Regions from separate parts of the Homo sapiens genome. Here region 1 is linked to region 2. A link means that fine-mapping ties the variant in region 2 to the plasma level of a protein whose gene starts in the linked region. Region 2 holds a variant in brackets. A gene starts in the other region. All regions are shown on their reverse strands.

What was found. PIP is the chance, under the fine-mapping model, that this variant and not a neighbour inherited with it causes the effect. The UK Biobank Pharma Proteomics Project read protein levels with antibody pairs (Olink). The fine-mapping took linkage between variants from a reference panel, not from the people measured, so its PIPs are less certain.
Region 1: HYAL1 starts here. The variant in region 2 is fine-mapped to the plasma level of the HYAL1 protein (UK Biobank, PIP above 0.99).

The regions. Positions count from the first base shown.
Region 1 is chr3:50,302,890-50,308,243 of GRCh38, reverse strand. It overlaps HYAL1 (hyaluronidase 1), which reads left to right and starts at 4,670. Exons shown (of 4, transcript NM_033159.4): 1 at 4,670-4,778; 2 at 5,264-5,354. The coding sequence starts at 5,288. RefSeq lists enhancers at 4,265-4,434, 4,252-5,186.
Region 2 is chr12:55,645,813-55,651,182 of GRCh38, reverse strand. It overlaps the pseudogene OR10AE3P. Among named protein-coding and RNA genes, the nearest start is that of OR10P1, 12 kb to the right of the region's middle. RefSeq lists an enhancer at 4,547-5,006. The variant C/T (reference allele first, on the strand shown) is at 2,164.

The DNA of each region.
Region 1 (5,354 bases), not on the chromosome of region 2:
GAGGCAGGAGAATCACTTGAACCCAGGAGGCAGAGGTTGCAGTGAGCCAAGATTGCACCACTGCACTTCAGCCTGGGCAACAAAGCAAGACTCTACCCTGAAGAAAAAAGTATACGACAACTTGATTATATAAAAGTTTTTGGGTTTTTGGCCGGGCACGGTGGCTCACACCTGTAATCTCAGCACTTCTGGAGGCCGAGGCAGGTGGATCACGAGGTCAGGAGATCAAGACCATCCTGGCTAACATGGTGAAACCCTGTCTCTACTAAAAACACAAAAAAATTAGCCAGGCATGATGGCGGGCCCCTGTAGTCCCAGCTACTCAGAAGGCTGAGGCAGGAGAATGGCGTGAACCCGGGAGGCAAGCTTGCAGTGAGCCGAGATTGCGCCACTGCACTCCAGCCTGGGTGATAGAGCGAGACTCCGTCTCAAAAAAAAAAAAAAAGTTTTTGGGTTTTTTGTGACTTACACTGACTGTTCATGACATGGTTGGACTTTCCAATTTGTTCTGAACATCCCTCCTTTTTATTTATTTTGGGTTTTTTTTTTTTTTTTTTTTTTTTCAGATGGAGTCTTGCTCTGTCACCCAGGCTGGAGTGCAGTGGCATGATCTCCGCTCACTGCAAGCTCCGCCTCCCGGGTTCACGCCATTCTCCTGCCTCAGCCTCCCGAGTAGCTGGGACTACAGGCGCCCACCACCACGCCCAGCTTAATTTTTTGTATTTTTAGTAGAGACAGGGTATCACCATGTTAGCCAGGATGGTCTTGATCTCCTGACCTTGTGATCCGCCCGCCTCGGCCTCCCAAAGTGCTGGGATTACAAGCGTGAGCCACTGCGTCCGGCCCTATTTTGGTTTATTTTTTATTTTTTATTTTTTTCTTGAGACTGAGTCTTGCTGTCACCCAGGCTGGAGTGCAGTGGCATGATCTCAGCTCATTGCAACCTCTGCCTCCCAGGTCAAGCGATTCTCCTGCCTCAGCCTCCCAAGTAGCTGGGATTATAGGCACACACCACTAAGCCTGGCTAATTTTTGTATTTTTAGTAGAAACAGGGTTTCGCCATGTTGGCCAGGTTGGTTTCAAACTCCTGACCTCAAATGATCCTCCTGCCTCAGTCTCCCAAAGTGCTAGGATTATGTGTGAGCCACTGCACCCGGCTTATTTTTTTTTTTTTTTAGCAGAGTCTTGCTCTGTCACCCAGGCTAGAGGGCAGTGGCGCAATCTCAGCTCACTGCAACCTCCGCCTTCCAAGTTTAAGTGATTCTCCTGCCTCAGCCTCCTGAATAGCTGGGATTATAGGTGTGGGCCACCATGCCTGGATAATTTTTGTGTTTTTGTTGTTGTTGTTGTTGTTGTTGAGATGGAGTCTTGCTCTGTCACTGAGGCTGGAGTAACAGTAGCATGATCTCGGCTCACTGCAACCCCCACCTCCCAGGTTGAAGCAATTCTCCTGCCTCAGCCTCCTGAGTAGCTGGGATTACAGGCACCCACCACCATGCCGGGCTAATTTTTGTATTTTTAGTAGAGATAGGTTTCACCATGTTGGCCAAGCTGGTCTCAAACTCCCGACCTCAGGTGACCCGCCCACCTCGGCCTCCCAAAGTGTTGGGATTACGGGTGTGAGCCACCACTCCCAGCCAAAAAAAATTTTTTTAATCTTATTACCATATTTCAGCTAGAACAAAATGCTGCTAAAGTAACAATGATCACACAAAGTATATGATTTCTGAGTGCTGTAAGTGTAAGCAGAAGTTAACACCAGCTGGTTGTTAAATGCTAACTTTAGTCATTTAAAGGAAATTGCAAGGCAGAATCCCAAGCCAGTTTCTTACCTAGTGATGGGTCTCAGGCTGTAGACTGCTCTCTACCATCCCAGAAGCAGGAAAAAAAAACTAATTTTCCCTGTTGGAAGCGAGCTCAAACTCCATAAAGGAGTTACCTGCCTTCCATCGTCATGGAAGCAGAAAAACTTGCTTTCCTTTTGGGAGCAAGTAAAACTCCAAAAAAAAAAAAAAAAAAAAAAAGAGTTGTACAGCAAAATAAACTTTAGATCTCAACCAATTGAGAAATCAAGGATTCTCTGGAGGGGGTGCTCCCAGACCTCAGCAAATTGTCCTATTGGTTTGAGCCATAAAGTTAGCTCCTGCTGGTACCAAGCACAGATAGGCAATTAGTCAAAAGTCAAGGACATCTCCACACAGAATCCATCCATAGTTACCAAATGTGAACCCAGAAAATCTGAGACAGCTCTCAGTTAATTTAAAAAGTTTATTTTGCTGAGGTTGAAGATGCATCCAAGACACAGCCTCAGGAAGTCCTGATGACATGTGCCCAAGGTGTTCCGGGCACAGCTTGGTTTTATACATTTTAGGGAGATATGAGACATCTATCAATACGTAAGAAGTACCTTAGCCAAGCGTGGTGGCTCAAGCCTGTAATCCCAGCACTTTGGGAGGCCAAGGTGGGCAGATCACAAGGTCAGGAGTTCAAGACCAGCCTGGCCAATATGGTGAAACCCTGTCTCTACTAAACATATAAAAATTAGCTGGGTGTGGTGGCACGCGCCTGTAGTCCCAGCTACTCTGGAGGCTGAGGCAGGAGAATCGCTTGAACCCGGGAGCCAGAGGTTGCAGTGAGCCGAGATCATGCCATTGCACTCCAGCCTGGGCGACAGAGTGAGACTTCATCTAAAAAAAAATTAGGCCAGGCGCGGTGGCTCACACCTGTAATCCCAGCACTTTGGGAAGCTGAGGCAGGCAGATCACAAGGTCAGGAGATCGAGACCATCCTGGCTAACACGGTGAAACCTCGTCTCTACTAAAAATACAAAAAATTAGCCAGGCGTGGTGGCGGGCGCCTGTAGTCCCAGCTACTCGGGAGGCTGAGGCAGGAGAATGGCATGAACCCGGGGGGCAGAGCTTGCAGTGAGCTGAGATCGCACCACTGCACTCCAGCCTGGGCGACAGAGCGAGACTCCGTCTCAAAAAATAAAAATAAAAAAAAAACAGAAGTACATAAGCTCTGTCCAGAGAGGTGGAGACAGCTCAAAGCACGGCCCCCCACTGGGGGCTTCCAGGTCACAGGCAGGTGACAGACAGATGGTTGCATTCTTTTGAGTTTCTGGTAGTCTTTCCAAAAGAGGCAATGGAGGCAATCATAATATGCATCTATGTCTGTAAGCAAAAGGATGACTTGAATAGAATGGGAGGCAGATTTGTCCTGAGCGGTTCCCAGCTTGAAGGGGCCCAAGATATTTTCCTTTCACATATTGAACAAGTGAAACCACAAATGAATGAACAAGCATGTGCTCACTGACAGCTCATATGCATGGTCACACAAACACAGGATCTCATGCTCACAAGACAGCAGGGCTCACACACACCCAGTCCCAGGCACTGGGTTCCACACTCACACCTACTTGCCACTGGAATTTGTGCAGAGGCTCAGATGGTCACTAAATGGGGCTTCACAAAGACACAGTCACTAACCCAGCACATATACAAAGGGTGATGACACAGCCCTGACTTCATGAACACAGTGCCTTTCAGAAACAGGTCCCTACAACAGGGATGACTTATCCACTAAGCACAATAGACCCAAGGCCTAGGGCCACAGTACTTTCAGGGGCCCACAAAATGTTTTTTTAATCAGAAGAAGAATATAAATGTAAATATATTAATAATTAATATATAATAGTGTAACCCAGACATGACCTCCTGGGCTCAAGCACTCCTCCTGCCTCAGTGTCCCAAGTAGCTGGGACTACAGGTACATACCACCATGCCCAGCTAATTTTTAATTTTTTTGTAGAGATGGGGTCTTGCTACATTGCCTAGGCTGGTCTCGAACTCCTGGGCTCAAGCAATTCTCCCACCTCAGCCTCCCAAAGTGCTAAGACTATAGCCATATATATATATATATATATATATATATATATATATATATATTTTTTTTTTTTTTTTTTTTTTTGAGATGGAGTCGCTCTCTGTCACCCAGGCTGGAGTATAGTAGCACAGTGGAGCAGTCTTGGCTCACTGCAACCTCTGCCTCCCGGGTTCAAGGGATTGTCCTGCCTCAGCCTCCCGAGTAGCTGGGATTACAGGCGCCTGCCACCACGCCCGGCTAATTTTTTGTATTTTTAGTAGAGAAGGGGTTTCACCATGTTAGCCGGGATGGTCTCGATCTCCTGACCTCGTGATCTGCCACCTCGGCTTCCCAAAGTGCTAGGATTATAGGCGTGAGCCTCCGCACCTGGCATGCCTGGCCATATTTTAAAATATTTTTTTTAAGGAGGAAAAGATCCACGAAAGTAAAGTGCCTAGGGCCCATCAATGTCAGATGCAGCCACGTGGACAAAGAACACTCCCTGAGCACAAGACACGAAAGAACCCGGTCTCCAGTGTCACAAACAGGCCTGCCCAGCAGGGTCTGCCCCTGCCCACCTCCTCCAGCCTAGGTAAGGCCACAAAGCCCTGCCCTAGTGCTGACAGCGTGGGAGGGGCCACTGTTGGCCCAGCCCCACCCCCAACCAAGATCCCTTTGCCAGGGATTCAGAGGTAGCCCTGATGCCTGGCTGGCCTGGCCTCCTAATCCAAGGCCCGCCCCTTGGCCCGCCCCTGGCCTGGGTGGGGTGACCCCCTACAAAAGCTCAGAATTTCCAGCAGCGGCTCCTTCCTCCAGGAGTCTCTGGTGCAGCTGGGGTGGAATCTGGCCAGGCCCTGCTTAGGCCCCCATCCTGGGGTCAGGAAATTTGGAGGATAAGGCCCTTCAGCCCCAAGGTCAGCAGGGACGAGCGGGCAGACTGGCGGGTGTACAGGAGGGCTGGGTTGACCTGTCCTTGGTCACTGAGGCCATTGGATCTTCCTCCAGTGGCTGCCAGGATTTCTGGTGGAAGAGACAGGAAGGCCTCCCCCCCTTGGTCGGGTCAGCCTGGGGGCTGAGGGCCTGGCTGTCAGCCACTCTTCCCAGAACATATGTCATGGCCTCAGTGGCTCATGGGGAAGCAGGGGTGGGCGAGCTTAGGCTAGAGCAAGTCCTGTGGGAGATGGCAGAGGCCTGGTCTGAGAGGCAACTCGGATGTGCCCTCCAGTGGCCATGCTCCCCTCCATGCGTCTCCCCTGCCCTCCTGGAGCCCTGCAGGTCAATGTTTAACAGAAACCAGAGCAGCGGTGGATTAATGCGCAAGGGCTCAGCCCCCCAGCCCTGAGCAGTGGGGGAATCGGAGACTTTGCAACCTGTTCTCAGCTCTGCCTCCCCTGGCCAGGTTGTCCTCGACCAGTCCCGTGCCATGGCAGCCCACCTGCTTCCCATCTGCGCCCTCTTCCTGACCTTACTCGATATGGCCCAAGGCTTTA
Region 2 (5,370 bases):
GCAAAATGCCGCCAGTCTGTTTGCAAAGCAAGAGTGCCCTTTACTCCGGGTTCCCAACAAGTTCCTTATCTCCATCTGTATTAGTCTGTTCTCATGCTGCTATAAATGACTAAGACTGGGTAATTTATAAAGGAGAGAGGTTTAATTGACTCACAGTTCCACGTGGCTGGGGAGGCCTCAGGAAACTTATAATCATGGTGGAAGGGGAAGCAAACATGTCCTTCTTTACATGATGGCAGAAAGGAGAAGTGATGAGCAAAAGGGGGAAGAGCCACTTATAAAACCATCACATCTTGTGAGAACTCACTCACTATCATGAGAACAGCAGCATGGGGGTAACTGCCCTCGTGTTTCAATTACTTCCCCCCAGGTCCCTCCCACAACATGTGGGGATTATGGGAACTACAATTCAAAATGAGATTGGGTGGGGACACAGCCAAACTGTGGCAGGCCAGGTCTCACTAATGCAGGCCTCCATAACAACTGTTTCAGTACTGACTGAGTGGTTAAGTTAAATATTAAAAGCCAGTGCCCTTATACAAAGGCTGGGATGTAACAGTAGCCCGTCAAGAGTTTTGCCTACGCCTTTCTTGGGCCTTAATGCATGACAAAATAACAGGAATTCTTAACAGGACCCATTTAGGATTAAACAAGTTTTATTGTGGGTCTGAAGAAACTCCCCAGGCCTCCACAAACAAGTTTATTGGGGGTCTGAAGGAACTCCCCAAACCTCCATGATTTAGTGGGAGACAAGATAAGGGTAATCACCCCAGCACCTTGACCCATTTAGATTAAGTAAATTTACTGAGGCTCCAGAGAAAGGTCTTCAGGACTCAGATCTTAGTTATAGATTAAAAGAAGTTAATCACTTATGTGTTTAGATAAATATACACTTACATGTAGACATACAGCTTAGAAGGCATGTAAGCTCTGGAAAACTTTGTAATTTTGAGTTGGTCTGGTGATAATTTCCAGGCCTTCTCCCAGTAGCTGGCTACAGAAATAAAAACTCTCTTGCTCCCCAGTTCCTCTGCATCTCATTATTGGGCCACGAGAAATAGCAGCTCGACCCTCAGTTTGGTCCAGGAACAAAACCATATCACCATCTGAGACCACCTCAGCCTGGACTTAATTGTTCATATCACTATCAGCATTTTGGTCAAAGCCATTCTGCAAGTCTCTAGGAAGTTCCAGACTTTCCCACATTTTCCATTTTTCTTCTGAGCCCTCCAAACTGCTCCAACCTCTGCCTGTTACCCAGTTCCAAAATTGCTTCCACATTTTTGGGTATCTTTACAGCAGTGCTCCACTCTGTGTGGTACCAATTTACTGTATTAGTCTGTTCTCACACTGCTAATAAAGACATATCCAAGACTGGGTAATTTATAAAGGAAAGAGGTTTGACTCACAGTTCGGCATGACTGGGGAGGCCTCAGGAAACTTACAATCATGGCAGAAGGGGAAACAAACACATCCTTCTTCACATGGTGGCAGGAGAGAGAATGAGAACCGAGTGAATTGGGAAGCCCCTTATAAAACCATCAGATCTTGTGAGAACTTACTATCATGAGAACAGCATGAGGGAAACCACCTCCATGATTCAATTACTTCCCATTGGGTCCCTCCCACCACACGTGGAGATTATGGGAACCACAATTCAAGATGAGATTTGGGTGGGGACACAGCCAAACCATATCACATATTAAGGACCTACAATTTTTTATTCATTGAGCCATTAGTGCTTGAGAAATACTTTCTTTTGTGTCACCTCTGTCATCCCCTGCTGCAGTAGATGTCATTTGCCCCAACTCAGATCTAAGAAAATGTTTCCTATTTCTAAAGGACAGACAATATTGAAATCTTTTGCAGCAGCTAGGGAGTGGGCTGAACCCCTCAGCTGGGTTGCGAAGTTCTCCCACAAGTCAGGCCTGTTTCTCATTCAGTGGTTTTCTTTGAAGATTAGCACTGTTTTACAAAAGGATTTTTAAAAAGTCCTCTCCCCTCTCCCCTGTCCCCTCACCCCTCTCCCTCTCTGCACGGTCTCTCTCTGATGCCGAGCCGAGGCTGGACTGTACTGCCGCCATCTCGACTCACTGCAACCTCCCTGCCTGATTCTCCTGCCTCAGCCTGCTGAGTGCCTGGGATTGCAGGCGCGCGCCGCCA[C/T]GCCTGACTGGTTTTCGTATTTTTTGGTGGAGACGGGATTTCACCGTGTTGGCCGGGCTGGTCTCCAGCTCCTGACCACGAATGATCTGCCAGCCTCGGCCTCCCGAGGAGCCGGGATTGCAGACAGAGTCTCGCTCACTCAGTGCTCAACGTTGCCCAGGCTGGAGTGCAGTGGCGTGATCTCGGCTCGCTACAACCTCCACCTCCCAGCTGCCTGCCTTGGCCTCCCAAAGTGCCGAGATTGCAGCCTCTGCCCGGCCGCCACCCCATCTAGGAAGTGAGGAGCGTCTCTGCCTGGCCGCCCATCGTCTGGGATGTGAGGAGCCCCTCTGCCGGGCCACCCAGTCTGGGAAGTGAGGAGCGCCTCTTCCCGGCCGTCATCCCGTCTAGGAAGTGAGGAGCGTCTCTGCCCGGCCGCCCATTGTCTGGGATGTGGGCAGCGCCTCTGCCCCGCCGCCCCATCTGAGATGTGAAGAGCACCTCTGCCAGGCCTCGACCCCGTCTGGGAACTGAGGAGTGTCTCTGCCCCACCGCCACCCCGTCTGGGAGGTGAGGAGCGTCTCTGACCGGCCACCCCCTCTGAGAAGTGAGGAGCCCCTCCGCCCGGCAGCCGCCCAGTCTGGGAAGTGAGGAGCGTCTCCGCCCGGCAGCCGCCCCGTCGGGGAGGTGGGGGGCAGCCCCCGCCCAGCCGCCGCCCCGTCTGGGAGGTGGGGTGTGCCTCTGCCCTGCCGCCACCCCGTCTGGGAGGTGTACCCAACAGCTCATTGAGAATGGGCCATGATGACGATGGCGGTTTTGTCGAATAGAAAAGGGGGAAATGTGGGGAAAAGAAAGAGAGATCAGATTGTTACTGTGTCTGTGTAGAAAGAAGTAGACATAGGAGACTCCATTTTGTTCTGTACTAAGAAAAATTCTTCTGCCTTGGGATGCTGTTAATCTATAACCTTACCCCCAACCCCGTGCTCTCTGAAACATGTGCTGTGTCCACTAAGGGTTAAATGGATTAAGGGCGGTGCAAGATGTGCTTTGCTAAACAGATGCTTGAAGGCAGCATGCTCCTTAAGAGTCATCACCACTCCCTAATCTCAAGTACCCAGGGATACAAGCACTGCAGAAGGCCGCAGGGCCCTCTGCCTAGGAAAACCAGAGACGTTTATTCACATGTTTATCTGCTGACCTTCCCTCCACTATTGTCCTATGACCCTGCCAAATCCCCCTCTCCGAGAAACACCCAAGAATGATCAATAAATACTAAAAAAATTAAAAAAAAAAGTGCTTTCCAGAATTAGCCAGATGTGGTTGTGTGTGCTGTAGTGTCAGCTACTTGGGAGGCTGAAGTGGGAGGATCGCTTAAGCCCAGGAGTTTCAGGTTGCAGTGAGCTGTGTTTGTGTTACTGCACTCCAACCTGGGTGTCAGAGAGTCTCATAAAAAAAATTATATATATATAAAAGAAGAAGGCAGCTAAGCTAGGGAATAATTCTACGCATGGGCCACAAAGGCAGAAGGCAGCCCTTTGGGCAATGGACTGGGCAGTTTAGCAGATAGAAATCGGCCAAGGCATTGAAACACTTGGTTTCTGAGCCCAGCTTCATTCAGGCCTTGCTGACGGACCGCAAATAAATCCCAGCCCCCTCCTCATGTAGTCTCTCCACTGTTTGGGATGGAGACTCTAGACCTAGGAGCTTAGGCACAGTGATGAGGCAGGAGAAAGTCACTTCCTTTTCCCTGGTCCCTGGGCAAAACTTTATTCCCCCTTCTTCATCTTGCCTTGCCTACTTTCCCTCCCCACTCTCTGCTCTGCGAACTAGGCTCTTGGGGAGATTGAGGTGCTGCGAGGGCTGCCCAGGAGGGGCCCCATCTGAAGGTAAAGCCCCACCAGGCCTTTATCCGTGGTCTTTGATCCTGTCTTCTCTCTCACTCTTGCTCTCACTCCCACTCACTCTGCACCTCATGGTGGATCCATTTTTCTTCTGATCTCCTGTCAGCTTTATTCTGTCTGCTCACCCACTTTTCTGCCCATATTCTCAACCACTTTCTCAAAGGCAGCTGTCCCGCTGGTCCCAGCTCTTTGCTCCTAGAGCCCAGAACTCGGGTGAGTGGAACCACCCTGGTGTCCGTTAAGTCCCCAGCCTTGAGGAAGGTCCTGCCATTTTCCCTCAACTCCCCTGGCTAATCTTCCTGTTCAGAGGAGTTTTCTGGGCGGGAAGGAGAGCTGGGCTGTTCCTGTGGCCTCTCCCACAGCTTTCCTGCTGCGGCCTTTGTCTTTGCCTGGATGCTTCCTGGGGCAGCACGAGCCCTCCTCTGGCCCCGTCCTCCAGTCTGGCCTTGGGGACATGGCGGTGGCAATGGCACAGCATGACTGAGCTTGTTTTGTTGGTGCTCTCAGGTTTTGGTTCCGTCCGGGGCCTTCTGTTTTGGGCAGTGCTCTGCAAACATCTGGTGACCCTGCTGGACAACTCCCTGATCGTCGTCCTCGCCCTGGCAGCCTCTGCCTGCGCTGGCCCACGCACTTCCTCCTGCACCACTTCTCCTTAGGGGAGGTCCCACGCCACAGCGGCGGAGTCTCGGATGCAGGCCGATTCCCTTCCCCCGCCGCACTAGCCCACCGGTAGGCGGCTTCCCGCTGCTGGGTTTCTTCGCCCTCCCTGGCATCGCCGAATGCGCTTGCGCAGGGCCATGGCCTCCGCCGCTGTGACGCCATCTGCCGGCCGCTGCATTCTACTACCTGAGGAGCCCTAGTCTTCCGAGCCCGCTTCGCCTTCACCTTGCCCTTCTGCGGCGCAGCACCACCCGCTACTTCCGGCTGGATTCTCGGCCTGTGCTGAGACCTTTAAAATAACACTGATTTTCTTAACTTTTGCAAACTATGCATCTGACAAAGGTCTAATATCCAACATATATAAAGAACTTCGGGAGGCTGAGGCAGGAGAATGGTGAGAACCCGGGAGGCGGAGCTTGCAGTGAGCCGAGATTGCACCACTGCACTCCAGCCTGGGCAACAGAGTGAGACTCCATCTCAAAAAAAAAAAGAACTTAAATTTATAAGAAAAAAAACCAAACAATCCTACTAAAAAGTGGGCAAAAGACATGAATAGACACTTTTCAAAAGAAGACATACATGCAGTCAACAAGCTTATGAAAAAAAGCTCAACATCGCTGATCATTAGGGAAACGCAAATCAAAACCATAATGAGATACCACCTCAC